4 separate regions of the Homo sapiens genome follow, and all the other regions are linked to region 1. The links come from fine-mapping of genetic effects on gene expression. A gene starts in region 1. Each other region holds a variant in brackets. All regions are shown on one strand. Distances are from middle to middle. Region 1 holds the start of MSANTD3 (Myb/SANT DNA binding domain containing 3). Region 2 overlaps INVS (inversin). Region 3 overlaps MSANTD3 (Myb/SANT DNA binding domain containing 3). Region 4 overlaps MSANTD3-TMEFF1 (MSANTD3-TMEFF1 readthrough).

Region 1 (8,110 bases):
AAAAAAAAAAAAAAGGCTAGGCATGGTGGCTCACGCCTGTAATCCCAGCACTTTGGGAGGCCGAGGTGGGAGGAGCACCTGAGGTCGGGAGTTCGAGACCAGCCTGACCAACATGGAAAAACCCCGTCTCTACTAAAAATACAAAATTAGCCAGGTATCATGGTGCATGCCTGTAATCCCAGCTATTCAGGAGGCTGAGGCAGGAGAATTGCTTGAACCCGGGAGGTGGAAGTTGCGGTGAGCCGAGATTGCGCCGTTGCACTCCAGCCTGGGCAACAAGAGCAAAACTCCATCTCAAAAACAAAAAAAAAAAGAAAAAAAGAAAAAGAATAAAGTGGCAGTGATGGAAGAACCTCTCTTCCAAGCCTCAACCTCTCTCCTTAGCATCAAACACATTTCCAATTATCTATCAGCCACCTCTGTGCCCCACTATGGGTACCTCAGAAAACTCCAACTCTCCATAGCCAAAACCAAACTAATTATTCCCCATACACCAAAATCTCCTGATTTCTGATGATGTCAGCCACATCAACTTGGCTTCCCAAAGCAGAAATGTAATCTTCAATCACATGCAACTAATTAACAAGACCTATGGTACATTTTACCCAAACATCTGTTCCCTCCTCTCCCATTCTCACTGCCCATGTCTGTGGACAGAGCTAATCTCTAAAATGGTCTCCCAAACTTCCATACCCTCTTCCACACAACTACAGGGATCTTCCTAAAACACAGTGATCAAGCCACAGGCCTCCTTGTAAACCTCAGACGTCTCTCCCACTGCCTAAACGATAAAAGTCCCAACTCTTCACATGGCATTCATGGCCTTTCCGGATCTGGTCCTGATTATAGCACCCCCACCAGCCCCTCATTCTCTCCATGTATTTTCAACCTAACCAGACCAAACTCAACACGCGGCTTCCTTTGGCTGGAATCCTTTACCCCAAGGCCACCAAGGGCCCATTTTCAATCTCTCTTTTTTTTTTTTTTTTTTGACACAGAGTCTCACTCCCAAAGTGCTGGCATTACAAGCGTGAGCCACCGCGCCCGGCCCATTTTCAATCTTCAAAGCCCAACTCTCATGCAATTTTTGTTAAGCCTTCCTCAATTAATACCCAGTCTGTTATGTTTATTTTCTTTATAACGGCTTCCTTCTAAAATGGGTTTGAAGCAGCTTACAAATTACACACACACTGCAACTAGATTTTTTTTTTTTTTTTTTTGAGAGAGAGAGGAGAGACTAGCAGGGCAAAGATAAGACAAAGGTAAAAGAGATCAAAGTTAGGTGGTAAAGGAGCATTCAAAACCTGTGTCATAGCTGGGCACGGTGGCTCACGCCTATAATCCCAATACCTTGGGAGGCCAAGGTGGGCAGATCACCTGAGGTCAGGAGTTTGAGACCAGCCTGGCCAACATGGTGAAACCCCACCTCTACTAAAACTACAAAAATTAGCTGGGCGTGGTGGTAGGTGCCTGTAATCTCAGCTACTTGGGAGGCTGAGACAAGAGAATCGCTTGAACCCAAGAGGTGGAGACTGCAGTGAGCCGAGATCATGCCACTGCACTCCAGCCTGGGCAACAGAGCGAGACTGTCCCCCCCCAAAAAAAAAACAAAAACAAAAAACAAAAACCTGTGTCATAAGGTCTCATACTCACCTTGTTAGATATAGATTGGCCCTGAGTTCCCACTGGCTCAGAATGAGTTACTCTTCTATGAGCTCACTGACAGTTGTACATGACTGTACTGTAGCACTTCCCATATTTTTTGCAATTTGCTCTTTGCGTCCATCTCCCACACTGGACTGGGAAATTCCTAGGGGAATACATAATTTCTGACTCATCGCTGTATCCCCAGGATGTAACATATGACTCAGCACATGACTGGTGCTCAGCAGACATTTGTTGAATGAATGTTATCACGGACAGGGAATACGGTACTAGTGCTTGTTGAACTGCACGCCAGATATGTGAAAAAACATTATTTTATCCTCACAAAAAATGTACAAAGCTAAGAAATGGCAGAGCTAGGATTCAAACCCCAAACTGTCTATCTCTCCAAAGCAATTGCTCTTCCAAGTATGCATGATGTTCCCTACCTTCACCATCGCTACGTACCCACCTACTCTCTGCTTCAATGCCTGGTTAAAAACAAAATAAACCACCCTTCTCCCAGACGTCTTTCCTACTCACTCAGGACAGGAGTGCCTGAGTCCAGCCCTTGATCTTCCACAATACGTTAACAAATCATCACCAACTGGGAGAGGAAAGGGTGCCCCCTTGGTAGCTGAGAACTGAACAGCCTGTTGGGTATTCTGCAGATGGTGGGGTGAAGTCCTCAGCTCCTTCTTCTCCTGCCTTTCCCCACAGGTGCAGTGCCTGGGCCCTTCCTGCCTCTCTTCCTTCTTCAGGATCCAAAGCCTTTTTAGTTCTCCCCATTCTAAACCCAAAATAATCTCCTCAGGCCCATTACTTCTCTAACCCAGTGAATGGTGTTGAAAATGCACTCTTCCATTATATCAGTGAGACCTTTGTATTTTAAGCATCTCATCAACCATTAGGGCTGGCAAGCATCCCCATGCCCTGAAACACAAGAATTTTGTGAGAAGGGATAATGGCATTTTAGGAGGCCCAATCACCTGACCCTCCATCAATCTGAATATTTTTGGCGGCCTGGGAGTAAAAAGAGACAACCTATAACATCCCTCCCCACCCCCTGCCCCAGCAGCCTTTGTCCCCTAGCCCGGGTCTCTACGGGAGGGATGAAATCTGGCCCAGCAATGCTGCAGGGGAGGGATGGTGAACCCTGGTGCCTTCCTCTACATCTTCCTCCAGGACTTCAGAATCCTTCTTCTCCCCCTTGTCCATCCCATGTCTCTCTCTGGCCCTGGACTCCCACAGCCATCCTCAATCCTAACTCAGAAACTATGTTTTTTAATTAATATTCAGCAATTTCCTTGGAATACAATCATCTGCTCTGACATGCTGAAAGGCACACTCTCTGGCCCTGATATTATCCTACCTCCAGTTTTAAATGTATGACAAATATATCCCTGCATCCTATAACTACTCTCCTCGATACTGCAGGAACGTCTGTAATGTTAAATGTTATCACGCCTAAGAAATACCCAACCTCCTGAATCGGAATAGGGAGACTAAATTCTTCACTGTTTCGTACTCCTAAATAAAGATTATTCATGCAATTTACAGTAACTACCTCACAGCGCCAGGGTGATGATTCAATGATAATTCATGCCAACTGTTTAGTACCTAGGGCCTGGTACATACAGAGTGCTCAAAATTTAGCTGTTATCATTTACATACATTATCTTTCACAATAGTACCTGAGGGTAGATATTATACCACGCCCCCCCGACCCCCGCCTCTAATTTACAGAAACAGTAGCCCCGGCTCGGAGTAAAGGAGCTTTCCCAAGGTCAGTCAAGCAAGGATGTGATGCTCGGCCTTCATCCTGCAAGTGAGGGATCCCTCCCGTTACACTCTGGACGGGCGGGGCACTGGAGGTCTTAAAGGAGACAAGTATGGAAAAGCGCCGAGCACAGTGATCAGCACACAGTGGGGACGCCGGGATGGGAAGACCGCGGTACTGCAGGTCACCTGGATTCCCCCCGAGCAGCTCCCCGAGCCCGGGAGTCCAAAGCCCACCCCGCTCCCAGCCGTGGGCGCGCCACTGAGTACCCCAGAGGCCCGCGCCCCGGGGCTTTGTAGGCAGCAGGCCGGCCCTACTCACCGAGTCCCATCGCGGCGCGCAGAGGCGGCCGCCCGGCGCCCAGCCTGCAAGGCCGGGGTCGCAGCGGCTCGGCCCGAAAACCCTCCATGCCGGCCCCCGGCCCCCTCTACGCCCGGCCCGCGCCCCCCACCCCCGCCCCCGCCCGGCTGCGGCCCGCCCGGAAGGGGAGCCTCCTACCTGCAGCGGCGGCGCGGCAGCCGCGGCGACCGGGGGAGGGGCCGGCGAGGCGCGAGGGCGGGCGGCCTGGGCTCCTCTCGCAAGCAGGGCGGCCGGGAGGGCCGCGGGCTCCCGAACGCCGGGCGGCGGCGGCGGCGGCGGCGCGCCCCCGGCCGGCCAGGCCCCGCCGCGCGCGCCGCGGCCACAAAGCCCGGACGCCGCCGCCCCCTCGCGGACCGCCCGCCGCCTGCCGGTCCGTCGGCGCCGCCGAGGAGGGCGGGAGCGCGGCCCCGCGCCAGTCCCCACTTCCCCGAGCTGCGGCCGCCGGCCTCCAGGGGACTGGGGCGGGGCGCGGGGTGCCCCCCCGCCCACCTGCCCGTCCGCACCGACCCCGCTCCTGACATCCTCGGGCTGACGTCCTCGTGCTGATTTAGTTGCCTTTTTTCCCCACCTTTGCAGAGGAGCTCCTGAAGCGGCCCGAAAAACTGTTTTATTTCTATGAACAACAAAAGAATACATTTGTCACACGGGATTTGGCGGCCATGAACACGAGTTAGTTCAGTCCAGGTCCCCCGACTGAAATAGGCCCTTTTCTTTTAGGACTCCTTGATACTTGGGACAGCGAATCCCCCTATGCTGAGTTTATCAGAACTTCTGTTAATTTGTGGAACGTGCCTCCCCCAGGAGAGCGACTGTGCTCACTGGAGCCCAGGACCTGTCTCGGACACTGTGCTGACTCATTTGGAATTAATGCGTGTGTAAATGCATGCACAACAGCTCAAACTGTCGGGACAAGCCACCCTTTGCTCCTCCCGCAAACAGAGTGGCTGGATGTTTCTTTTGCCCTGGATCCATTGGGAAGACTCCAACCCCAGAGAAAGGCAGAGAAGGCTTTTTAACTTTTTTTTTTTTTGAGGTGAAATTCGCATAACATAAACCACTTAAAAGCGAACGATTTGGTGGCATTTATTACATTCATAATGTTGAGCAACCACTTCTATCTAGTTCTGAAACATCCATACTCCATTAAGCAGTAATTCCCCAGTCCCTCCTTCCTCCAGACCCTGGCAACGACTCAGCTATTTTCTATCTCTGTGAGTTTACTTTTTTCTGGGTATTTCATATAAATGCAACCATACAATATGCGGCCTTTTGTGTCGTTTCTTTGACTTAGCCTGTATTTAAGATTCATCCATGTTGAGGCGTGGATCAGTACTTCATTCCTTTTTATGGCTGATTAATATCCCATTGTATGTGTATATTATAATTTGTTTATTCATTCATCCCTTGATAGATATTTGGGTTACTTCCACCTTTTGGCTATTGTGAATAGTGCTGCTCTGAACATGCCTGTACACATATTTGAGTACCTGTTCCCAGTTCTTTTGGATACATACCTAGGAGTGGACTTTCTGGGTCATAGGGTAATTCTATGTTTAACTTTTCCAGGAACTGCCAAAAAGTTTTCCACAGCAGCTGAATGAATCATTTTACATTCCCATCACCAATGTTTGAGGGTTCCAAGTTTCCACAACCTTGTCAACACTTGCAATTTTCCGTTTTTGTGTTTTAATTCCTTGAACATTTTTGAGACTATTGCTTGCCCTCCCAACTCCCACTATCCATAGCCCTAAAGTAAAAACTGATCTAGGTTTTCACTATGTACAAAGAATCACGCAACCCTTTCTTTCTTCCCTCAAAAAACAATCCAGGGCAGAAGCACCAATAAAAATAAAGACCCTAAACTAAGAGCTATACTGGTCCTCATTCTTTTTCTTTTCTTTTTTTTTTTTTTTTTTTGAGACAGAGTCTGCTGGAGTGCAATGGTGCAATCTTGGCTCACTGCAACCTCCGCTTCCCGGGTTCAAGCAATTCTCCTGCCTCAGCCTCCCAAGTAGCTGGGACTATAGGCATGTGCCACCACTCCTGGATAATTTTTGTAATTTTAGTAGAGACAGGATTTCGCCATGTTGGCCAGGCTGGTCTCGAACTCCTGACCTCAAGTGATCTGCCCACCTCAGTCTCCCAAAGTGCTGGGATTACAGGCATCTCATTCATTATTTTAACAATAATTTGTCTGATGTCCAGGAGGCCTTGAAATTGTCCAGAGAGCCTGGAAACTAAAATTATACCAGGGGAGTTGCTACAATGTGCTAGCAAACAAGCTATGATACCACACCGAAAGCCAAGGCTGTACATCATTTACACTTGTTTTCCACTTAGTGCCATATTATAAGTCCATGAAGATTCCCTTCTTACATGCAGATACGGTCAAGGGAAAACTATTGGGGTGTGACATTGGAAGGTCAATTCAGATTGGAAATTTGATTGATAAAGTGATACAGTGTGGAAAAAGCACTAGATAAACGTGAACTAAGTTAAGCTCCTGAATCTCAGTTTTCTCATTTCATTTTTTTTTTTTTTTTTGAGACGGAGTCTCGCTTTGTCACCCAGGCTGGAGTGCAGTGGTGGCGCAATCTCGGCTCACTGCAAGCTCCACCTCCCGGGTTCACGCCATTCTCCTGCCTCAGCCTCCCGAGTAGCTGGGACTACAGGCGCCTGCCACCACGCCTGGCTAATTTTTTTTGTATTTTTAGTAGAGACGGGGTTTCACCATGTTAGCCAGTATGGTCTCGATCTCCTGACCTCGTGATCCGCCCGCCTCTGCCTCCCAAAGTGCTGGGATTACAGGCATGAGCCACCATGCCCGGCCAGTTTTCTCATTTCTAAGATGGGAATATGATGCCTACCTGGCTGGGTAGATAAAAGCTTCTAGTCTTAACTTCAGCAAATGATCAGTGTTATTTTATTGATTTAAATAATGAAGATTGTGGCTCATGCCTGTAATCCCAGCACTTTGGGAGGCTGGAGCATGTGGATCGCTTGAGCCCAGGAGTTCAAGACCAGCCTGGGCAACGTGGCAAAACCCCATCTCTACCAAAAATACAAAAATTAGCCAGTCTCATAACCTGGTCTCAAAATAAATAAACAGATAAAATTTTAAAAATAAAAAAATTAATGCTGTAATAAATAAATAAATAATGGTGATTGACATGAGCCACATGTAGGTGTACTGCTAAGGAGACATGGGAAACTCAAATTTAGTCATGTGTCTCTCCTCAAACAAAGAGAGCAGACTATCTTAAAAACTAATGGGGCAGGGTAACTACTCAGGCCTGCAATATGGTGGCTGCCTTCCCAGCTCTCTCCTTGATCCCTGACTTAGTTCTGCATGCTACCTTGGACAACTGACTTCTTTTTCTTTTTTTTTTTTTTTTTTTTACTTTGGATCACTTACATCAAATTAAATAGGTTTCTTGAAAACACAGAGAAAACACTCAATAAATGTGAGCTATTTTATCAATAATAAAGCTATTACAGTTTCTTTGTAGAAAGTGTTAACAGAAGGGCAGCGTCTACACAGAGTCTAGGAAAAGAAAACCATAAAGAACTCATCCATGTGACTTGTCCCTTTTTCAAATGCTGGAGGGTCCCTTCAGGAGATCCATTCCTGTGATGGAGATGAGTGATGCATTGCGCTCCACAGGTTGCTGAGAATAGCTATACATATTGTATCTTTTTTGCTAGGATCCAGGCTCACCAAGCAGTCTTGATATAGTAGTTGATTTCAACGACATCTTTTTTTTTTTTCCTTTTTTATTCCTTTTAGAGACAGGGTCTTGCTCTGTCACCCAGGCCAGAGTGCAGGTTATGATCATAGCTCACTGCAGCCTCAAATTCCTGGGCTCAAGCGATCCTCCCACCTCAGCCTCCCTAGTAGCTGACACTACAGGAGCATACCACCATGCCCAACTCATTTTTTAAATTTTTATTTTTGTAGAAAGGGGGTTTTTCTTTGTTGTCCAGGCTGGTCTTGAACTTCTAAGCTTCAAGCAATCCTCCTACCTCAGGCTTTCAAAGTGCTGAAATTACAGGCATGAGCCACTGCACCCAGCCTGGTTTCAACAAAATTTTCTTTTCTTTTCTTTCTTTTTTTTTTTTTCTCGAGACGGATCTTGCTCTGTCGCCCAGGCTGGAGTGCAGTGGCATGATCTCAGCTCACTGCAACCTCCGCCTCCTGGTTTCAAGCGATTCTCCTGCCTCAGCCTCCAGAGTAGCTGGGATTATAGGCGCACGCCACCACACCCAGCTAATTTTTTGTATTTTTAGTACAGACGGGGTTTCACCATGTTGGCCAGGCTGGTCTCA
Region 2 (8,110 bases), 290 kb after region 1:
TTTTTTCCCTTCTGTTAGACATAATTCCTCGGTTTGGCCTTCCCACCTCTATACAGTCTGATAGCAGACCGGCCTTTATTAGTCAAATCAGCCAAGCATTTTTTCAGGCTCTTGGTATTCAGTGAAACCTTTATTTCCCTTACGGTCCTCAGTCTTCAGGAAAGGTAGAATGGACTAACGGTCTTTTAAAAACACACCTCACCAAGCTCAGCCACCAACTTAAAAAGGACTAGACAATACTTTTACCACTTTCCCTTCTCAGAATTCAGGCCTGTCCTCAGAATGTTACAAGGTACAGCTCATTTAAGCTCCTGTATAGATGCTCCTTTTTATTAGGCCCCAGTATCATTCCAAGACCAACTTGGACTGTGCCCCAAAAAACTTGTCATCCCTACTATCTTCTGTCTAATCATACTCCTATTCACTGTTCTCAACTACTCACACATGCCCTGCTCTTGTTTACACTGCTGGTTTACACTGTTTCTCCAAGCCATCACAGCTGATATCTCCTGGAGCTATCCCCAAACTGCCACTCTTAACTCTTGAAGTAAATAAATAATCTTTGCTGGCAGAACTATGCTGAACCTCCTTAGGCACTCTCTAATTAAATGTCCTAGGTCCTCCCAATTCTTAGTCCTTTAATACCTGTTTTTCTCCTTCTCTTATTCCATTTAGTTTTTCAATTCATACAAAACCGTATCTAGGCCATCACCAGTAATTCTAAATGACGAACGTTTCTCCTAACAGTCCCACAATATCACCCCTTACCACAAAATCTTCCTTCAGCTTAATCTCTCCCATTCTAGGTTCCCACACCGCCCCTAATTCCGCTCGAAGCAGCCCTAAGAAACATCGCCCATTATCTCTCCGTACCATCCCCCAAAATTTTCGCTGTCCCAACACTTCACCACTATTTTGTTTTATTTTTCTTATTAATATAAGAAGACAGGAATGTCAGGCCTCTGAGCCCAAGCTAAGCCATCATATCTCCTGTGACCTACACGTACACATCCAGATGGCCGGTTCCTGCCTTAACTGATGACATTCCACCACAAAAGAAATGAAAATGGCCTATTCTTGCCTTAACTGATGACATTATCTTGTGAAATTCCTTCTCCTGGCTCATCCTGGCTCAAAAGCTCCCCTACTGAGCACCTTGTGACCCCCACTCCTGCCCGCCAGAGAACAACCCCCCTTTGACTGTAATTTTCCTTTACCTACCCAAATCTTATAAAACAGCTCCACCCCATCTTCCTTCACTGACTCTTTTCAGACTCAGCCCGCCTGCACCCAGGTGAAATAAATAGCCTTGTTGCTCACACAAAGCCTGTTTGGTGGTCTCTTTACACAGACGTGCATGAAACAAAGGTCATATATGATTCCTTTTTACATGAAATATCTATAAATCCATAGAAACAGAATGCATACTGGTGGTTGCCAGGGGCTAGGGAGAGAGGGCAATGGAGACAAACTGTTTAATGGATAAGTGGTTTTACTTGAGAGTGATGGAAATGCTTTGGAACTAGATAGAGGTAGTGGTTGCACAACATAACGAATGTACAAAATTTCTCTGAATTGCTCACTTTAAAGTGGTTATTTTGTCTGGGTGCGGTGGCTCATGCCTGTAATCCTAACATTTTGGTGGGCCAAGGCGGGCTGATAGCTTGAGCTCAGGAGTTTGAGACCAGCCCAGGCAATAAGGCGAAACCCCTGTCTCTATAAAAAATACAAAAATTAGCTGGGCGTAGTGGTACGTGCCTATAGTCCCAGCTACTTGGGGGCTGAGGCAGGAGGATCACTTGAATCCAGGAGGTTGAAGCTGCAGTGAGCCCTGATCACACCACTGCACTCCAGCCTGGGTGACAAAGTGAGACTCTATCTCCCCCCACAAAAAAAGGGTTAATTTTATGCTATGTGTATTTCACCTCAATAAATTGTTTTTAAAAATCAGATGACGGGACTGATTACAGGTTAAAAGGTAAGGTCTTGTTTCAGATATGCTGAAATTGAGATTTTGGGAAGATATCCAGGTAGAGATTTCTAGAAGATAGCTGGAAATATAAGTCTGGAATAAGGGGAGAGGCTAGGGCTAGAGACAAATATTTGAGGGAAAATAGCCGAAACTTATAGAAGTAGATGAGACCTCTGAAAGGTAGAATATATAGAAAGACTTTTATCTTGGGGCAGAAATGGGAGTTAAAGGAAAGGAGTTAATAAAGAAAACAATGAACTATCAAAGGAGTAGCAGAAAAATAAGTTACTGCAGTATCAAAGTCCAGAGAAAATTCTGAAATGAACAAGTGGTCAATATATCAATGAATCAGAGAAACACAGAAGTACGAGAACTGAGAAAAGAGTAAGCCTAGGTAAATTAGGTCACATTGTGCATCATGAAAACAACAACAACAAATAAGTCATTTCTGTACCCTATAATATAAAACAAAGAAGCACAAAATATGTTTGTAAAAGAAATCTCTCCCTACATGCTTTCATCTGTTTTGATTAAATAATGTTTTGACAAGGAAAACCATCAATAAGGCCGGGCGCGGTGGCTCACGCCTGTAATCCCAGCACTTTGGGAGGCTGAGGCAGGTGGATTGCTTGAGGTCAGGAGTTCAAGACCAGCCTGACCAACATGGTGAAACCCATCTCTACTAAAAATACAAAAATTATCCAGGCGTGGTGGCAGGCCCCTGTAATCCCTGTTACTTCGGAGACTGAGGCAGGAGAATCGCTTGAACCCAGGAGGCAGACGTTGCAGTGAGCCGAGATCGTGCTGCTGCACTCCAGCCTGGGTGACAGAGCGAGACTCTCTCTTGAAAGGAAAAAAAAAAAAAAAAAAGGAAACCATCAATAAAAATAATTTAAAAACAAAAGTCGAAATCAATAAAATTTCAAGGTTAAAGACTCTTTATCAAAAGTGCCTATATGCAACTCTTTTGATTTAAATAAGACAGATTTGTTTGAGCAAATGACAGAGCCGGAAAGGGTAGAAGCTGGGTACAGAAACATTAATGGTTGAAGTATATGATAATGTTTCTTCAACTCAAATCTAATGTTTCCAATTAAAGAATAAAAAGATGTTGCTCTGAGGGTTAAATGTATAAGGATATATATATATATAAAATTTTTTTTTGAGACGGAATTTCGCTCTTGTCACCCTAGCTGGAGTGCAATGGCACGATCTCGGCTCACTGCAACTTCTACCCACTGGGTTCAAGCGATTCTCCTGCCTCAGCCTCCCGAGTAGCTGGGATTATAGGCACGTGCCACCACGCCCAGCTAATTTTTGTATTTTTAGTAGAGATGGGGTTTCACCACATTGGCCAGGCTGGTCTCGAACTCCTCACCTCAGGTGATCCACCTGCCTCAGCCTCCCAAAGTATTGGGATTACAGACATGAGCCACCATGCCTGGCTGAGGAGTTACATATATTTTAAAAAGAAAGTTAAAGTCACTAGATGGCTATACCTACTTGCTGTTATTCTCAATTAAAGTTACTTATAAATAAAGCACTTTATACACATATATTATTACGTTGACTCTCAGTCTTTTAAAGTTTAACTCTTTTTAAAGTTAAAAAACAGCAAAAAAATCCTACAAAAAATTCAGTAGAACCTTAATGTTTAAATTTAGTATTTGTTGGTTCATTGAAAAAATATGAGAATTGAATTCAGCTACAATTTTAAATGAAATGCCATTTTCTTAATCACATCAATTAATCACATCAACTTTTAAATACAATTGGAAAAAGTACCTATATTTGCAAAAGAGATTATTTATATGGTTTTCAGATGTTTCATACTCATATATATTTGTAAACACTATGTATAACTTTGCTGCCTTTCAGGGTCTTTGGCATACACATCAATCAGTATTTCAATGTATTTTCATACTTACAATCTTATGATGTAAGTATGTTAGAAATATTATCTCCATTTTACAGAGGCTTAGAGAGTTAAACTACCTGCTCAAGGTCACAGAGTACCAAATGTCTTTGAATTATGACTCGAATATAGATCTTATAAATTCTGATACCAGATACCATTTCTTTTTCATTATGCTATATTTACTCTGCAGAGCACCAGAAAATAACAAGGTCCTTGTTATGCAGTGAAAAAACAAGTTATCATTAAACACTAGCTTTCTCACTTCCTCTGTTCCTGAAGCCCAAGTTTAGGAGTTTAATGGAACCAAGGGTGTTAGGGTCTGGGGAGGTGTGAGAGGAGCAGCAGTGGTCCCCTATATTCCTAAGGTTTCCTTTCCTATCCAGTCTCCCCTGCTTTAGGGACAAAACATCTCCCTCTAATCAAAAGAAAACCTAGAACTCCTTGTTTTCCCATGTGTAAAATAAGAATAATTTCCAAGGCCCTTCCAGTTTTCATATTTTATAATTGATTGTCAAGAATATTCAGATACATTCTAAGTTCATAGCATACTCATTCATTGAACAAACTTTCCTACTGTGTATCTAAACTTTCCAACTGTCTGTCCTTTTTTTTTGAGAAGGAGTCTCCCTCTGCTGACCAGGCTGGAGTACAGTGGCGCGATCACGGCTCACTGCAACCACTGCTTCCTGAGTTCAAGTGATTCTCCTGCCTCAGCCTCCCGCACAGCTGGGATTACAGGCGTGTGTCACTACACCTGGCTAATTTTTGTATTTTTATTAGAGATGGGGTTTCACCATGTTGGCCAGGCTGGTCTTGAACTTCTGACTTCAGGTGATCTGCCCACCTCAGCCTCCCAAAGCACTGGGATTACACGCGTGAGCTACTGTGCCCAGACCCGACTGTCCTTTCTGTTCCCATCTCCCCAGCGACTTTGATCCATCAATAATCCATTCTTTCTCCTAAATTTTTGATGTCTCCTTTTCCTTAACATTTAAACGTGTTCAAATATCTCTCATCTATTAGATTACAAGAGACTTAAAAGACTTATCAACCAAATACAA[T/C]GTATAGACCTTGTTTAGGTCCTGATTTGAATAAATCAACTGTAAAAAAATGTTTGAGATATAATCAGGAAAATTTGAACACTGATTAGGTATTTAATAATATTACAGAATTATCACTAATTTCTTTTTGGTACAATGATATCGTGGGGATATATGAATTATAAATATACTGAAATATTTATGGATGAAATAATAGAATATATAATAAAACAGTTTGAAGTCTACAGAAACAAGTTTATGAATTAATATTTATTGAAAGTGGGTGACGGTTATACTGGGAGAGATTATTATTTATTAAAAATTTTCCCACCACAATTTCTTCCGTCCATACTTTTCCTGATCAATAACCCCATTAATCAATCACTCGTACTGTCTCCATATCCTCATTTCCTGTTTACTCAACAGTGATATATATCTAGCTTGTGTGTCCACTAAATACCATTGCTCTTGCTAAGGTCACTTTCTAACTGAAAAATCCAGTGGAAGCCTTTTAATTCTTATCATATTTATATCCATCCATTTATTGAGTCATTTAGTGGAAAAGGAACTATTCAAATCTTAGCATCATAGTAAAAAAGATGAAACAAATGGATCCTCTTCTGCTTGAAACCTGTCCCTCTGGCTCCATAACACCACTCTGATCTAGTTCTTCTCCTATCTTGTACTGTCTCCTTTGTAAGTTTATTTTCTGTAAATAAACCTTAAATATTGGTGTTTTCTATTTCTAGTCCTCTTCCCATCTATAAACCATACCTGAGCCCTTCAACTACTTCTATGGTTTCTATATGTATACTAATAACTCCAGCCAAGACCTTACTTTGGAGATGCAAACTATCACAATTCATACTAGTCATTATCACCGAAGCCTAAAATTCCATTTTTCACAACTGAACTCGATAACTTCCTCTCAAAATTGTACCTGGACTAGTATATCCTACCTCTATGAGTCATGTCATCAAGAGCTAGGAATACCAGTCAAAAGAGTCCCCAGTAAAACAGGATAGGTATCTAGAGGTTATGGAGCCAATAGCATTGAAAATGCAGCAAAGACAAATGGTATAAGCAGAATAGAGTAGTGATTCTCAAAGTGTGTTGCCTACATCATCACCATCACCTGGGAGCTTGTTAGATAAGCACATTCTCTGGCCCCACACCAGCCCTGCTGAATTAAAAACACTGGTGGTGGGGCCCAGACGTCTATGTTTTAACAAGTTCTCCAAGTGATTCTGCTGCATGTTCATCTAAGAACCCCTGGATAAGAGCATAGACACAGGGCTTTCATATAGCTCCTGAGGCTAAGGATGGGGGAAATTTGACCTGAGTGCTTAACAGTCTAGGTCAGGAACCATTCTTGGTTCCGTCCTCCCTTACCTTCCCTACAAATAATGTCTACCAAGTTCTGAACATTTTATCATTTTTTAAATAATACTTTAAAAATTGAGAATATAACATATACAGTAAAGTGCATAAATCTTAAGCATACAGACTGGTACCTTTTAATGTAACCAACACACACACCGATCCAGAACATTTTCAGCACCCCTGAAAGCTTATTCATATTCTTCTCAGTATATTACCCATCTTTTAGGTAACCACAAATCTGATTTGACTCACCATAGATTAGTTTTTCTTGTTCCTGAGGTTGATATGAACAGCAAATAAATTTTTTATAAGTGTCTGACTTGTTCCACTCAACATAATGTCTATGAAATTAACTTATGTGGTTGAACGTGTCAGCAGTTCATTCATGCAGTGTTCCATTGTAGGAATACATCACAATTTAGCTACTCATTCACCTGTTGGTACGTATTTGGGTTGTCTGCACTATTAAGAATATTTGCTTTTATAAAGAAGTTACACAAATGACCAAAAAACATGAAAAAATGCTCAACATCACTAATGATCAGGGAAATGCAAATCAAAACCACAACACAATACCACCTTACTCCTGTAAGAATGGCCATAATCAAAGAATAAAAAAACAGTAGATGTTGGCATGGATGGGGCGTTCAGGGAACACTTCTACACTGCTGGTGGGAATGTAAACTAGTACAGCCGCTATGGAAAACAGTGTGGAGATTCCTTAAGGAACTAAAAGTAGAACTACAATTTGATCCAGCAATCCCATTACTCGGTATCTACCCAGAGGAAAAGAAGTCATCATACGAAAAAGATACTTGCTCACACATGTTTATAGCAGCACAATTCACAATAGCAAAATTGTGGAACCAACCCAAATGCCCATCAATCAACGAGTGGATAAAGAAACTCTGGTGTATAGATATACACAATGGAATACTACTCAGCCTTAAAAAGGAATGAATTAACAGCATTTGCAATGACCTGGATGAGATTAGAGACTATTATTCTAAGTAAAGTAACTCAGGAATGGAAAACCAAACATCATATGTTCTCACTGATATGTGGGAGCTAAGCTATGAGGATGCAAAGGCCTAAGAATGATACAGTGGACTTTGGGGACTTGGGGGGAAGAGTGGAATGGGGGCAAGGGATAAAAGACAACAAATATGGTGCGGCATATACTGCTCGGGCGATGGGTGTACCAGGTTCTCACAAATCTCCACTAGAGAACTTACTCATGTAACCAAATACCACTTTTACCCCCAATAACTTATGGAAAAATAGAAGTTAAAAAAAGGAATGTTTGCTTTTCTAAATAAAACTATCATGTAATTCTCATACATGTCTTCTAGTAGAAAGAGGCACTTATTTTTCTTAGGTATTACCGGGGCTGGGAGCATGAATTGAGATGAGGGATGTGTGTATGTGTGTGTGTGTGTGTGTGTGTGTGTGTGTGTGTGTGTGTAGCTTTGGCAGATATAGTCAGATAGTTTGCGAGAGTGAATGTACCAATATACATTCTCAACAAAAATGTTGGGGAGCTCCAGTTGCTCCATATCTTCACCATCAATCAATATTGATTGCCAGACTTTTTTACTTTATACATTCCACTGGTCATGTAGTAGTATCTCATTGGAGTTTTAATTTGCTTCTAATTAGTAATGATGTTGTGTACCATCTCATGTGTCTTTTAGGCATCTGGATATAATCTTTTATGAAATAGGGCTACATGTTTCAACATGAAGAAGTTTCAAATACATAATATTAAGTTGAAAAAGCAAGTTGGTAAATGTCACA
Region 3 (8,110 bases), 27 kb before region 1:
ATTTAATCCAACAACCCTATGAAGGGTTTTCTATTATTATCACCATTTTAAAGCCTCCCCCACTAAATGAAAAACAAATTTAGAGGAAGGAAAGCAGTAATGAAGAAGTGTCTTAGTAGAAAATGAGGAATGAGGACGCATTTGTTCCCTGGGTTCCCCATTCCTTGATTTATAATATAATCTCAACTCCTTGGTATCCCCCTAGTTTTCTTCCCACTTGTGATTCTGTGGTAGATTAGATTATTGTTCCTCCTCTCCTCACCTTCTTAGGAGGAGTCTACTTCCCTCCTCCTGACTTAGAGCTTCATGCTTTGGCCAAGGAGATGTTAGCAGATATAACACTGAATCATAAAATATTCTTCTACAGTTGCGCTTGCCCTTTTGTACTTCTGTCCTGAGAAGAGGTTCCCTGGATAGCTCCTGCCCCTTCAGCCTGGAAATAAAGGTGACCACATGAGACATTTGCCCCAGCCATACCCCAGATTTCTCAATGCCTGAGTGACTGGGGCAACTGCCTCCAGTCCCACAGAATGTTGAAGACCAACCAGCCCCTTCCAAGAAACTCTTTGGAGACTCATAGTTAAGAATCTAAATCTATATGCACAGCACCAGCCTCTGAATTTCCTTTTTGGTTATGCTGGAAGCTGAACCAGATGATGGGACAGAAAAAGAACTAGAGCCTTACCTTCCACTGCTACTTAGAGTATTTCCCCCATAGCAAGTAGTCTTTAGATTTAAAAAAAACAAATTTTTTTTTTTGAGACAGTGTCTCACTCTTGTTACCCAGGCTGGAGTGCAATGGTGTGATCTATGCTCACTGCAACCTCCGCTCACTGCAACCTCCGCCTCCCGGGTTCAAGCGATTCTCCTTCCTCAGGCTCCTGAGTAGCTGGGATTACAGGCATGCGCCACCATACTTGGCTAATTTTTGTATTTTTAGTAGAGACAGGGTTTCACTATGTTGGCCAGGCTGGTCTCCAACTCCTGACCTCGTGATCCACGCGCCTCAGCCTCCCAAAGTGCTGGGATTACATCCACCCGCCTCAGCCTCCCAAAGTGCTGGGATTACAGGTGTGAGCCACTGCACCCAGCCAGAAAAAAAAAAATCTCTTAACAGCATTTTGAATTTTCCCCCCAAAAAACCCATAGAAAAGAAAACAGACCAGAGCCAACTTAAATCTCTTAGCAGTCACCAGGAGCTAAGAAAGAGAACCCATATTCCATTTCCCTATCTCATGGACTGACTGTCAGCCCTTTAGTGAGCATGCATGGTTAGTCTTTTCCCCCAAAACTGGCTGTGCTGTAAGGGCATTTTAGAAGTGGAACTGCAGATCCTCTCATTCGGAAGTAACAAGATCACATTCTGTCCATTCCAATCAGTACTTACAGTGAGAGAACTTTCATATACAATCTGGACATCTGGATAATGCAGAAACCAAGTTTTCCACCTAATGATGATAAACTTCACTGTTAGATTAATAATCAGCTTGCAAACCCAACAGTTATATTGGGTAATAGAGGTTCAATAGATGTGTTCTTTTAAATCTTCCATAAATCACTTCTATAAATTGAATCTCATATTAAATGCACCAAAAGCCTATTTAAAGAAATGCCATGTTGAAATTTTTCATAAAGAAAATAATCTGAAAGTAGAGCCTGAGATGAAGTTAAAAAAGAAAGAAAGGAAACAATCACACTCTTGTATTTGTAATGGAAGTTTTGTACACTGGGTGTTCCTAAACCATGGTACACCTGGGATACTTCCCCTACAGGGCAGCCTCTCTACAGGAGGGCACCCACATCCCAAACACAACAATTCAATGCTTTATATCATTCTTTATTTTAAAAGTGCTTTACCAACATATACTAATCTTCACAACATTCAAGGGAGGTAGATAAGTATTACACCACTTTCACAGATGGAGAAACTGAGGCAGAGATTAGTAAGTTGTATTGAGGGGCATAATATACGGCACAATTAGGAAAAGAATTTGTTGCAGTCATGGATCACTGAAGACCTTTCTCATGATTTCTGAGTCCCATCAACACAAAAAGCAGCAGATGCAGCATGGAAGCAGGTCATCACTAGTTTGGCTAGTCTAAGGTTAAACATTACCTTGTTGATACCAGATGTTGAATATGCTGTCCTTTGGCAAGCATCCCCCTCAAACGCATTCTTACATGCTTCCACCTCTAAACAGGAGAGGGGAAGCTGTTGTGAGTGCAGCAGGAGGGGGTGGAGAAACAGCGCTGGGAAGGAAGATGACAGAAGAGAAAACATGAACTGATATAAAAGCGAGGGCAAGGACAAACAAGAGGACCCTCTGGGAACCAGTCCAACAGAAAGGAAAGCCACAGCAGAAAAGAAGTATCATTTGAAAAGCTCAGACATCCAGAAATGCTACTCAAAGTGTAATTCTTAGCAATGACATTCAAAGCCACTCCTCCTGGCTTTGCCAAATATAATCATCAGGTCCTTCTGACATTCCCAGGAAGCAGAATCATTCCTTTCCCTGGTCCAGTCCAAGTGCTGATGTAATTGACCTGACACTGCAGAGACTGTTGACAACTCAAATGTACCCTCCCACCATGCCACCTCTCTTCCTCTGCACATCTAGTCTCTTCAAAACAAAGCAAAACAATGCATTTAATATTCTCCCTGCAAAAATCCTAAGACATTTCTGGAGATTTTGATGCATAATAATGTAGGATTCCATGCATGAATTTTTATAAAAGGGGCACGATGTGTATTAACAGCCCCTCTCAGCGAATGCTTGTTTATACAACATGGAACATTTTTTAAAATTGTGGATACCAACTGTCTAGAGAAAAATTGGAGCGCAAGGGAAAGAAATAACTTCTCTTGATCTTTCTAGTGGGAAGCAAATATAAGAGATGGTGACTGACATCCCACCAGCTGCAATGGAGGTACTGATGGCAGACGAAGCACCAAATGAGTAGGTGAACAAGGACCCAGCAGGGAGGGTCTAAGTCAGATGAACAGGTGGAAGCAGCAGCCCAGAGAGCTGGAGAGGCAGAAGTCAGGGAAAAGACATAGTAGCCAAAGAGGAAATGCATGGAGGTG[A/T]TGGTGTTTGAGGTCTAGGCCTTCCTAGGACAGGTTGGAGCCCGAAATGCATCCTTTCTTCCTTTATTTCAATCAGCAGCATCATTCTTTCAGACATGTAGCTTTAAAATCTTATCCCTTCTCTCCAACAAACAAGGTCAACTGCCAAGCCTTACTGATTCCACTTTGGCAATGCCCTTCACACTGATCTCCCTCGTGGGTTTGTTTGTTTGTTTGTTTGTTTGGAGACGGAGTTTCACTCTTGTTACCCAGGCTGGAGTGCAATGGTGTGATCTTGGCTCACTACAACGTCCACCTCCTGGGTTCAAGCAATTCTCTTGCCTCAGCCTCCCAAGTAGCTAGGATTACAGGCGCCTGCCACCACGTCTGGCTATCTTTTTGTATTTTTAGTATAGACGGGGTTTCACCATGTTGGCCAGGCTGCTCGCGAACTCCTGACCTCAGGTGATCCACCCGCCTTGGCCTCCCAATGTGCTGGGATTACAGGCGTGAGCCACCGCACCCGGCTGTCTCTCTTGGTTTTACTGCAACCTCTTCTGGGTCCTGCTATCATCTCATCCTAACCAGGGACAAACCCTCCTACGTATCCCCTACTCCAGTCTTCTCTCCACTCAGTTCTTTCTTCTACTCTTCTTCCTGGAGTACAGTTCTGATCACATTACTGCCCAAACTCAGAAATTCCCCATGCTGTCACTCCCTCTCAATTATGTGTCTCATTACCTTGAATCTTCAACAGGACCTTGCATCTAGTGAAGTTCCTCTGGTTTCCCAATCTCCACCTGCCAAAATGCCGACTCTGAAGACTTAGCTCCAGTGCCATCTCCTCCATGAAGACTTCCTTCATGCTTCTTAGCTCTCTGCTGAGGTACAAGTGCACTTTGAAGACATGCACTGATCAAGCGCATGATAGCTGTGTACAACCCTTATACTCCCTACTGGGCTGTGTCCGTAATTTGCCAAGGTGGGGGATGATGAACTGTGTCTTAATATTTACCTGTCTATCCCCTACACCACCTACCAAGAAATGGTTATTGCATTTCTACCTCGGGTAAGAAACTGCTCAAAAGTGAAATGAATTGTGATATACTTGCTCACAAATGGAGACACTGAAACAAGTACCCTGTAATGTGATCTGACTCTCAGGATAAAACCAATTCATGATAGAGCTCAAGGAATGGGACAAGGGCAGGCAGTTTGGACTACATATTTTGGAGTCAAGAAATCTGGGATTGAGGTTCTGCTTTGCCATTCGCTAGCTATCTGCTTGACACCAGGTGGTTCTTCTTTGAGCATCATTTCCTTCCTTCTGCATGGCCTCATGGGATTAAGAATAAAATGAGACACAGTTGTGAATGCTACATCAGTGATTCTCAATCCCAATTATGCATCATAATCCCCTGTAAAGCTTCTGAAAAATATAGAGGACAAGGCCCCAGCCCAGGTAAATTGAATCAGAATCCTGTGGAAATGGGACGCAGTGGGACTAATCATTTATAAAATGCTGTTTCTAATGCATAGCCAAGGTTGGAAGCTACTGTTATAAACTCATAAGTACCATTAACAGTAGAGCAAGGTGCTTTAGGCTGCTGGTTTAATTATCCTTTATATGTAAAGTTAGGAATCAGTTCAATGCTTTTATAGTTCCATTAAAATACACTACTGTGTGCAAGCATTTTTTGTATTCTTCTGCATTGTTGCATGGTTAAGTTCTGAAAGAATAATATCTAGCACCACTGTATGTAAAGATGTACCTAAGCCAAATTTTTGAGAAATAAAAACTTCATAGAGTCCTCTGAAACCTTGCTATTCAGAAGTGTGGTGACCAGACAAACAGAACTGGCATAAACCAGGAACTTGTAAGAAATGTAGAATCTCAGACCCCACTCCGTACTCTCTATAAAACGAGGTTCTTAAATGTGTCAATAGGTGAAGCAAAGGCAATCTTTGCTCAGTTCACATGTATGTTTAGGGTCTGCCATTCCCTGTCCTAATTCTAACAGGGTAGGAGGGCATGAATCATCAGATTCTCTCTTCCACAAACCACTGAAGATTGGGACTTTATCCTGATGCTTCTTTCTCTAAAAGGGTCCATTTGGTAAAAACTAAATTAAGAACATAAATCCTTACAAAAGGATCTTTTCTTTCAAAGAAGACTAGTCTTCACAGGCTTTCTTCAAATAACCAGTTCCTCTAAGACATTGAAAATATAATTCGGTGTTTAAAATAAATTCATACCCGTTTTGTGTGCTGTGCATAAATAGCAAGTATATGTGTACCTTACCAAACTTATGGTCCCCAGTCCCCAAATTCCAAAATTATGCAGGAGGGAAGGTTAGCCATTGCAGTAAACAATTTCTCCCTATTGACCCATGCTCTCCAGCTGATTATGATGTGGGCAGTACTCATCCAAGGCTATACAGACCAGCCGGGCGCGGTGGCTCATGCCTGTAATCCAGCACTTTGGGAGGCCGAGGCAGGTGGATCACGAGGTCAGGAGATCGTGACCATCCTGGCTAACACGGTGAAACCCTGTCTCTCCTAAAAAATAGAAAAAATTAGCCAGGCGTGGTGGTGGGCGCCTGTAGTCCCAGCTACTCGGGAGGCTGAGGCAGGAGAATGGCGTGAACCTGGGAGGTGGAGCTTGCAGTGAGCCAAGATGGTGCCACTGTACTCCAGCCTAGGCGACAGAGTGATACTCCGTCTCAAAAAAAAAAAAAAAAGACTATACAGACCACACCATAGCCAAGAAGTTGTAACAGACTTGGAACGTCATCTAGCCCAACTCCCTTGTTCTGTGGACAGGAAACACTACACCAAGGGTTAAAAGGAGTTACCCACATTCATACGGCAACTTGACGGAGAGTTGAGCTTAGAATTCAGGCCCTGACTCCAAGGCCTATACCACTTATGTGGACTCTGCCACATATACTCCTCCTTCCCCACCACATGGCCTTGAACTCTCACTGTCAGAAACTGCTGATCTGCCTTGGCACTTAAGTGTCACTTTGCTGCTTCCAGCTACTGCTGTCCCCAACACCCGGGGCTGTTTTTAACAAGAGGCTACAGGAGAAGCTATACTGCAGCTCAGTCAAAATATCCATTTATCAATCCATATTTCCGAATATGTTGGTAATGGATCCTCAAAAGGCCCAATGCTAATTATGTAATGCCAGCTACAAAGCATTACTACTGGCTAGCACCATGAGCATGGTGAGGGAAGGGCCTTTCCTTTGGTAGCTAAAGACTAAAAGCAAGGGCAACTATCAACTCAGTAGTACAAAGCTGGGAGGAAACTAGAGAGAGAAGAGAAAAACTGGAGCACAGCTGGGAAGGCAGCACCTTTAAAAAACATACACAGTGTGACTATAAAATTGCAAGTCTTTTTTTTTTTTTTAATAAAACCAACATAACAGAATGTAGAAATCTAAACGAACATTTCTTCCTCAAAGTAGTTACATCCTTAGCTCCAACAAAACTACTATTGTTGGAGACTTATTTAGAACTCCTGTTTGAGGAAAGGCCTTAAAAGGTGGTTTATGAGCCACATTAGAAAATACCCTTCTAAACTTTGGGCTGTTTAAAAACAGAAAATCCATACTCAGAGGATGACACCGAGAAAATTAAAAAGGTGCTGCAGCTCTCACGGAGGTTCCCTAAAGACCTCTAGCAAGTTCTGAGCAACAGCATCACCATTGGAGAAACGTGTAGCCTCCCAGGACAGCCACTTTCCATGGGACGGCATTCATTTGGATAGAAAAGTTCTGCTGTCTGTTTAAAAAGAAAAAAGAAAAAAAAAAAAATCAGCCACACTCCTTTATAGTCACACTTGCATTTGATTAAAAAAAAAAACAACAACAACAACACTCACACGTGGTTCTTGTATGAATTCTAATTAAGAGACATTATATTCAGAATTATAGCACTCATAGTGATAATTTTCAGAAGACTATAACAGCTTCTTTGCCACTTAAGGGGTACAGAGGGTGCAGCTGTTTACCTGAATGAATTCTTAAATAAGTGACTACTACCACTCTAATTTTCCTAGTTGTAGCTCTGTTACAGGTTACTGACCGCCAAGTCCATGTTCCAGACATTCTTTGCCAACACAGATTAATTACAAGAGAGCCACCCCCAAAGTCTTAGGGCGAATTGGGAAAGGGCCGGTTAAATGAGGAAACAGGCCATTCCTTGGTAAAAGTTTGTAGTTTTCTTTCCCAATACATCTTCTTTTTATTGAGAACTTCCATTTTTATCCTGTGTTCCTCCTCTGCCATCTCACACTCTCGCTCTATCTGCTGGATTTTGGCCACATGCACCTCATTCATTTGTATCAGTTGCAGTTGTAAGATGGACATTTGTTGATGGTGTTCTTCCTCATGCATCTTTTTTAAAGCACCTTCCTGAGAGGTTTTGCTCCTGTAGTTTTTATTGGCTGTTATTCTGACAGCTGAACACGAGGGTTCAGGTTGAGAGGTCCCCTCACATACTGGAAAATGTATGAACTCTTTCTCATCATCGCACAGTTCTCTATTTGAAACAGCAAATGATTCTGAAAAACAGTAGCAGAAAACATATGTTCAAAGATTTTACAGGCAGAGAAAAAAAAAAACCAATCCTATTTCAAATGACAGGGTCCTTCATTACAGGATGTATCTAAAATCATGTCTGCTTTGGTCTTCATGTCTACAGGGACCCTAGCCACACCTGACTTTTTAAAAACCCACAAATCAAAAGCAATTTTTTCTTAAGAAATAATGATAAGGGGTTTTGTTAGGTTATTTCTAGAACTTCAAAGTATGGGATCCGTGGTCAGAAACCATTTTTATCAAGAATCAGAGACCTTTTTATGTTGATATTCTAAACTGAAATATGCCCAACTCTGATGAGCGTAGGACCACAATGCAAGGCCAGTGTGGATCTTCAAATTAAGTTCTCTATCAGTCTGATCATGCTTTGCCAACTTCTCATTCAGCTATGAACACGTATATGTAATCTTTGCAAGAGTGCTATTGCTGTTTCCTGGTC
Region 4 (8,110 bases), 58 kb before region 1:
GAGTTTGAGATCAGTCTGGGCAACATGGTGAAACCCCCATGCAAAAATCTGCCAGGCGTGGTGGCACATGCCTGTAGTCTCAGCTACTGGGGGACTGACATAGGAGAATCACGAGCCGGAGGTCAAGGCTGCAGTGAGCCATGATTGCACCACCACACTCCAGCCTGGGAACAGAGATCTTATCTCCAAAAAAAAGAAAAAGGAAAAGAAAATATTATGTTAAAAGAAATAACTCAGGCACAAAAGGCTACACATTGTATTATTCCATTTATATGAAATATCCAAAATAAATAAATCCACAGAGAAAGTCTCTATGTGGTTACCAGGGGATGGGGGTGTGGAGTAGTGGGACTGACTGTTAACAGGTAGAAACTTTCTGGGGTGATAGAAATGTTCTATAATTAGATGGTAGATAGTGATGATCACTGCACAATATAGTAAATGTACGAAAACCACTGAATTGTATACTTTAACATGCTGAATTTTACATTATGAAAATTATCTCAATAAAAAATAGAAATAATTTTTAAATCATATAAATCATGCTGCTTAAATTTTGGAAAAATTGAAATAAAAAAATTAAAAACAGGCATTATAATATGTTTTTTAAGAGGGACACCCTGGCATCAGACCACCTTGTCCAGCATCCCGGCTCTACCACTTATCACAGCTGTGTGAGCTTAGTAATTTACCACCTATGCCTCCATTTCTTCATCTACAAAATGGGGACAATAACAGCACCTATCTCAAAATTCTGACGGAGGATTAAAGATATGGAAAGCACTTAGAGCAAAATAATAATACACATAATAAGTACTCTATTAAGTGTAAGCTACTATTGTTTTTTATTAGCACCAGTTCTGGAGAAAGTATAGAAAAATGAGCACTCAAACCAACTGTGGAAGTACATAGTGGCACAACCTCTCATGTGTCCATATGCATTGCCATTTTAATTGTCTTTATCCTTTTACCCAACATTTCCAGGAAACTATAACAGATATAAAAGAAAAACATACAAAAACCTATGTCCAAGATTGTTAACGTCAGCACTTTCTGTAAAACCAAAGTAGAAAACAATCTAAATGTCTATCTTTTGGGAATTAAATTATTGACATAATACTACACAGACTTTGGTAGAAACACATGTAGTGATATGAAAAGACAACTAAGACCTATTGTGAAAAAAAACACATTGTAAAACTATACATACAGTTATAATCCCATTATTTTGAAACATATGCCGGTTTACATATATAAGATTTTGCAGGTATACTCAATACATTTCCTTCATTAAACTGTTTTTTAAATCAATAATTAATCTAAACACAAGAACAATGTCCTCTGGTTCTATTTCTAACCACTATCCCTTAGTGTCTGCAACACTAAGTAGAATAGGAGGTAGCCAGAACCCAGGGAAATCACCCACAAAGATGAAAATCTACACAGCAACTTGCATACTGGCACTGAAAAACCTGGTATTAATGATTTTAAAAGATAATTTTTTAAAGACTTCACAAAATTCTGGTGCATTAGAAAGAGTTCCAGACTTGGGGTTCCAATTATTTGATTAAGTAAAAGTAACTATATGATCTTGACCAAGTGCTAAATCTGAGAATCCCAGTTTCCTAGAATTTAAAAAAAAAAAAAGGAGTATAATAATCCCTTATAGGATTCCAATGGTTATAAGAGATCCTTATAAAAGAACACTGCAAACTATGAAGAAAACTGACTGTTACTCTGGCTGAAACCACCAAAAACAAACTTAAAAAGACACTACCATAACCAGAAACCCCGACAAATTTTGTTGTAAAACATTGAATAATTTTTTTAAAACTAGGTCTAAATAAATGGGAATTAGGATGTGCTTATGGTATAACCTTGAAGTAAACAATGGTAAACACAAGTGTACCACCTAGAAAACACCTCAAACCACTTTAGAGAGAGAAGGAGGCTGGGCGCAGTGGCTTAAGCCTGTAATCCCAGCACTTTGGGAAACCAAGGCAGGCAGATCACCTGAGGCCAGGGATTCGAGACCAGCCTAGCAAACATGGTGAAACCCCATCTGTACTAAAAATACAGAAGAAAATTAGCCAGGTATGGTGGTGGGCAGCTGTAATTCCAGCTACTCAGGTGGCTGAGGCACAAGAATTGCTTGAACCCAGGAGGTAGAGGTTGCAGTGAGCCAAGATAGTGATACTGTACTCCAACCTGGCTGACAGAGTGAGACCCTGCCTCAAAAAATACTAATAAATAAAAATTAAAAATTTTTTAAAAAATAAAATAAAGAGAAAGAAGAAAAAAAGCTATAGAAAATGAATACAGGACACTAAAAGATTGAGCTGACTTGTGAACAATAAAGAATCTAAATATATCAACTGGGCTATAAACAACAGAATTGATACAGCAACATCAGCAGTTTAGTTTCACGTGCAAAACAATATTAAATGAAAGCTGACAAGGCAAAAATAAACTGAACTTAAAAATTCCTAGCCAGGCACAGTGGTTCATGCTTGTACTTTGAGAGGCTGAGGCGGGAGTATCACTTGAGCCCAGGAGTTCGAGACCAGCCTGGGCAACATAGAGAGACTCCGTAACTACAAAAGATAATTTTTAAAAATTAGCTGGATATGGTGGCACACGTCTGTGGTCTCAGCTACTCAGGAGGCTGAGGTAGGAGGATCAATTGAGCCTGGAAGGTCAAGGCTGCAGTAAGCCATCATGCCACTGCACTCCAGCTTTGACAACAGAGGGAGACATTGTCTCAAAAAATAAAAATAAAACATCCCAGAAGGAGATCTGACCTCTGAACAACAGTGGCTCCAGCATAAACAGAAAATGCAAAGCAAAACAACATGAATATTTTTTTAAAAGTTCAGGCCGGGTGCTGTGGCTCACGCCTGTAATCCCAACACGTTGGGAGCCCGAGGCGGACCAATTATCTGAGGTCAGGGGTTCAAGACCAGCCTGGCCAATATGGTGAAACCCCATCTTTACTAAAAATACAAAATTAGCTGGGCATGGTGGCACGCGCCGGTAATCCCAGCTACTCAGGAGGCTGAAGCAGGAGAATTACTTGAACCTGGGATGCAGAGGTTGCAGTAAGCCGAGATCACGTCATTGCACTCCAGCCTGGGCAAAAAGAGCAAAACTCAAGTTCAAAAATTTTCTGATGAAAAATGAAATAATTTAGCATAAACACTGAGATTAAAGAAGAGAATGGCAATTATCCCAGATTTCCTCTTCATATTTTTCCATATTCCTCAAATTTTCTACACAGATTATATACTGCTCTTATAACAAAGAAAAAAGGTGTGGGTTTTTTCCCTTTTTTAATCCATGGAAAAGACAGACTCAGAATATTTGCAAAAAAAAAAAAAGAGAGAGAGAAATTGAGCTGTGGTTGAAAATATAATAACCTGCCAAAGTTTTTAAAGGTACAAGAATACGTTAAGAACTTTAGAACCTTAAATGACTTCTGAAAAAATGACAAGGCTGCTGAGCCATGGAAAATACATGATACTTTTTAAAAAATAGATGAATTTGAATAGTAGCAAAGGAATTACAATAAATTAAGTTACCTAATAAACTAAAAGCATATACGGAGAGAATTTTCAGATTTAAGTATAGAATTTCCAAGTACATGAGAAGTATGCCAAGCCCCTAAATGCTCAAGAAGCTAATAATAGAATTATATGAATAAAGAAAATAGTTAAGTTAAGACAATGTTTCTAACAATGTAAAAAATGAAGGGGGATAAATAGGTTGAAGTTATCTCCCAATCCAGCTTAAAAGAAATTGAGAATTTAAATTCCATTAAAGAAACCACATATATAGGGAAAATGAAGGATAACAAATAGGAACTTAAATGAAGATGGTTGGTTATAACAAAGAAGACAATAACAAAGGTTGGTGAGGATGTGGAAAATGGAATGTTCACACATAGCTGATGAAAATGTGAAATGCTGCAACCATTTACAATAGTTTGGCAAATCCTCAAATGTTAAACATAGAGTTTTACATGGACAGCAGTTTGGCAAATCTTCAAAATGTTAAACATGGAGTCACCACGTGACCCAGGAATTCCACTCCTAGGTGGAATACATACACCCAAGAGATATGAAACAATGTATTTACACAAAAACTTGTACATGAATATCCATGGTGGCATTATTCATAATAGTCAAAAAGTAAAAACAAAAAAATGTCTATCAACAGATGAATGGATACTGAATGGATAAACAAAATGTGGTATTATCGAGACAATGAAATATTATTCAGTCAAAAAAAAGGAATGAAATTCTGATACATCCTACAACATGGATTAACCTTAAAAACATCATGCTAAGAGAAAGAAGCCAATTATAAAAGGTCATATTGTATGATTCCATTTATATGAAATGTCCAGAATAGACAAATCTACAGCAAAAGATAGTAAATCATGGCCAGGGTTGGTAGCTCATGCCTGTAATCCCAACATTTTAGGAGGCCGAGGCAGGCAGATCACTTGAGGTCAGGAGTTTGAGACCAGCCTGGCCAACGCAGTGAAACTCCGTCTCTACTAAAAATACAAAATTAGCCAGGCGCAGTGACAGGCACCTGAATCTCA[T/C]GCCGAGGTATGAGAATCTCTTGAACCGGGGAGGCGGAGGTTGCAGGGCGCCAAGATCACACCACTGTCCTCTAGCCTGGAGGATAGAGACTGTTTCAAAAAAAAAAAAAAAAAGTACGTCAGTGGTTGCCTAGGGCTGGATGAGGAGAGGTGGGGATTGGGGAGTGACTGCTAAAGAATGTAAAGTTCCTTGGCCAGGCGCGGCGGCTCACACCTGTAATCCCAACACTTTGGGAGGCCAAGGCAGGCGGATCACCTGAGGTCAGGAGTTCAAGACCAGCCTGGACAACACAGTAAAACCCCGCCTCTACTAAAAACAAAAAAATTAGCCAGGCATGGTGGCGGGCGCTTATAATCCCAGCTATTCGAGAGTCTGAGGCAGGGAGAATCGCTTGAACCCAGGAGGCAGAGGTTGCGGTGAGCCAAGATCGCACCATTGCACTCCAGCCTGGGCAACAGAGAGAGACTCCATCTCAAAAAAAAAAAAAAATGTAAAGTTCCTTTTGGAGGAGATGAAAATGTTCCACAACCTTGTGACTATAGTCGAAAACACTGGATTGTGCAATTTAGAAAAAAGATGATGATGGAGGGTAGCACAGATATCAATTACTTAATTTAATGTAAATGAGTTGAATGCCACTGAAAGCAGAATGATCTATAACTCTATTGGGAGACAAATCCCAACACCTAAAAACTAAAATATAAACACAAATTCAGAAAAGGTTGGGTCCTATGATAACTTCAAGAGATACTTGAAATCTACTCTATACAAAGGTAAAAAGTACAACAAATTATGATACAAAATAATGTTCAATGTATATGTCCTACATAGAATAACAAAAATATAAGAAAAACTGAAAAACTGTGAAAAATAAACCTATCATTATAAGTGGAAGTTTAACTATTTAATTAAGAGGAGATGACAAAACAAAAAATTTAAAGTATGGAACTAAAACATAAATTAACCCTCTCCCTTTGGTAGGGGCCAACTTGACAGAGCCAAGTTCAGGGGAAAAAAAAAACAGACAGACAGACGATAGAGAGAGAAAGAGTAGATACACAAAGAGAGACTTAAAGCAAATGTGGTAAAATCTTAATTGGGGAATCTGGGTGTACTATTACAACATTTTTCTAAGTTTGAAATTACATGAAAATAAAGTAAACTTAAGTAAAAATAATAGTTAATATAACATGGAGACTGAGAAGTCAAGGAAATAACTCTTCTGGATAGAAGAATCTTTCACAAAATTTGTTTTCATACTAGAATACAATGACACACCTTGTTTGTTTGTTTGTTTGTTTGTTTGTTTTTTGAGATGTTGTTTCTCTCTTGTTGCCCAGGCTGGAGTGCAACGGTGCGATCTCGGCTCACTGCAACCTCCACCTCCCAGGTTCAAGCGATTCTCCTGCCTCAAACTCCTGAGTAGCTGGGATTACAGGCATGCGCCACCATGCCCGGCTAATTTTTGTATTTTTAATAGAGACGAGTTTTCATCATGTTGGCCAGGCTGGTCTCCAACTCCTGACCTCAGGTGATCCACCCGCCTCGGGCTCCCAAAGTGCTGGGATCACAGGCATGAGCCACTGTGCCTGGACGCACCTAGTTTTAATATGAAAACCCAGAGATTCCATATGACACATTCTTAGACCATAACGCAAAATCATGAAAAAACCCATCTGTAACATATATAAATTCATGTGTTTCACAACAATGAGAGAAATTTTATCATAAATGACAATGGAGTTAAAGAAACATAATGATCTATATCCACCTAAAGAATTTAGAAAGAGACAAAAGGGAAAGTTTAAGGGATAAAATTAAGAAAAAAAAATAGACATAAAAACATCAGAGAGTGATTCAAGGACAATGGTATAATCAGAGATAGCAGGGTAGGTTTCAAATACAAAGGAGGAAGTGGATTCAAGGAAAGAGTTAAAAAGAAGAACAATACAGTGGAAGTTACAAGGAGTACAGGCAGGAGAGGAGTTCAGACCAAAACACCTAGGCACTGGAGAAATAAGGTCTCCCATCCAAACATATAATTGTGAATAACAGGAATGAGGGAATGTACACCAATTTGACTCTCCTCCAAACAGGCTCTCCATCTCAAATTAAGAGCATCACAACTCACCCCACCATCTCTAGCAGAAGATCCAGAAGTTTAGGCAGAAAAAGATCAATAAAAGAGGCTGGCTGGTTGAGGACTGGGCAAAGTAAAGAGCTCATGCCTCACTAGACAGCACTGACTGATTTTTGCAATGTGGAAATAAAAGCCCAATGCTGACAGTACCTCCAAGTTTAGAAGAGAATGCAGGCCAGAGTGGTGGCTCACGCCTGTAATCCCAGCACTTTGGGAGGCCGAGGCGGGCAGATTACTTGAGGTCAGGAGTTCAAGACCAGCCTGGCCAATATGGTGAAAACCCGTCTCTACTAAAAATTCAAAAATTAGCCAGGCGTGGTGGCGTGCACCTGTAATCCCAGCTACTCTGGAGGTTGAGGCAGGAGAATCGCTTGAACCTGGGAGGTGGAGGTTGCAGTGAGCAAAGATCAAGCCGCTGCACTCCAGCCTGGGCAACAGAGCAAGATACTGTCTCCAAAAAAAAAAGAAAAGAAAGAAAGAAAGAAAAGAAAAGAAGAAGAAGAAGAGTCGGCAGAAAAATAGATTGCCAAGTGAAACCTCCAGATTTTTAATGGCTAACAACCAATGTAACTTTTTTAAAAAACTGTGCAGGCTAGGCTGGGCGCAGTGGCTCACGCCTGTAATTCCAGCACTTTGGGAGGCCAAGGCAGGCACATCACAAGGAGACCGAGACCATCCTAGCCAACACGGTGAAACCCCGTCTTTACTAAAAATACAAAAATTAGCTGGGCGTAGTGGTATGCGCCTGCAGTACCAGCAACTCAGGAGGCTAAGGCAGGAGAATCGCTTGAACCTGGGAGGCGGAGGTTGCACTGAGCTGAGATCATGCCACTGCACTCCAGCCCGGTGACAGAGCTAGACTCCGTCTCAAAAAACAACAACAATTAAAAATAAAAATAAATAAATAAATAAACAAAAAACCTGTGCAGGCTAAACAAGTCCTCTCAATTCTTCCCATTTCTACCATTATCTTTCATCGTACCGCCAGGCTCTTCCCTTCTCCATTCCATCTTCACCAATTTCAGACTTTGTTTTCTAAAACCATAATGTCACTCAAACCCTTTAAAAGCTTCTTGATGTCTTTGAACCAAATGCCAAAACTTCAGATGGGCCTTGAAGACCTTAATGTGGTGGCATAATCTCCTGCCTTAATCCCCGCAATTTAGTATTTCGAAAAGACTCCCTTCTCTTTTCCACCTTTGTGCCTTTCCTAAAGCTATTCCTTCAGCCTAGAATACCCTTCCTAAGAGGTATTCTATGTTCATTCATCTATGTTCAGCTTCTATGTTCATTCAGCCATTAATCTATTCCACAAATAAATATGTAATGGGAACCTAACTTCGTACCAGACACCAATCTGGGC

The links.
Region 2: its variant is fine-mapped to the expression of MSANTD3 in whole blood (TOPMed, PIP 0.97).
Region 3: its variant is fine-mapped to the expression of MSANTD3 in whole blood (INTERVAL, PIP above 0.99).
Region 4: its variant is fine-mapped to the expression of MSANTD3 in whole blood (TOPMed, PIP above 0.99).

Annotation. Positions count from the first base shown.
Region 1 is chr9:100,423,206-100,431,315 of GRCh38, reverse strand. It overlaps MSANTD3 (Myb/SANT DNA binding domain containing 3), which reads right to left and starts at 4,173. Exons shown (of 3, transcript NM_080655.3): 1 at 3,923-4,173. RefSeq lists silencers at 3,677-3,796, 3,837-4,066, 4,107-4,336.
Region 2 is chr9:100,133,433-100,141,542 of GRCh38, reverse strand. All of the region lies in intron 3 of INVS (inversin), which reads right to left. Among named protein-coding and RNA genes, the nearest start is that of INVS, 38 kb to the right of the region's middle. RefSeq lists an enhancer at 764-1,337. The variant T/C (reference allele first, on the strand shown) is at 4,952.
Region 3 is chr9:100,450,081-100,458,190 of GRCh38, reverse strand. It overlaps MSANTD3 (Myb/SANT DNA binding domain containing 3), which reads right to left. Exons shown (of 3, transcript NM_080655.3): 3 at 6,457-7,634. The coding sequence ends at 7,225. The region is part of intron 1 of MSANTD3-TMEFF1 (MSANTD3-TMEFF1 readthrough); the gene reads right to left. Among named protein-coding and RNA genes, the nearest start is that of MSANTD3-TMEFF1, 12 kb to the right of the region's middle. RefSeq lists a silencer at 2,290-2,584. The variant A/T (reference allele first, on the strand shown) is at 3,086.
Region 4 is chr9:100,481,307-100,489,416 of GRCh38, reverse strand. The region is part of intron 1 of MSANTD3-TMEFF1 (MSANTD3-TMEFF1 readthrough); the gene reads right to left. The region is part of intron 1 of TMEFF1 (transmembrane protein with EGF like and two follistatin like domains 1); the gene reads right to left. Among named protein-coding and RNA genes, the nearest start is that of TMEFF1, 12 kb to the right of the region's middle. The variant T/C (reference allele first, on the strand shown) is at 4,607.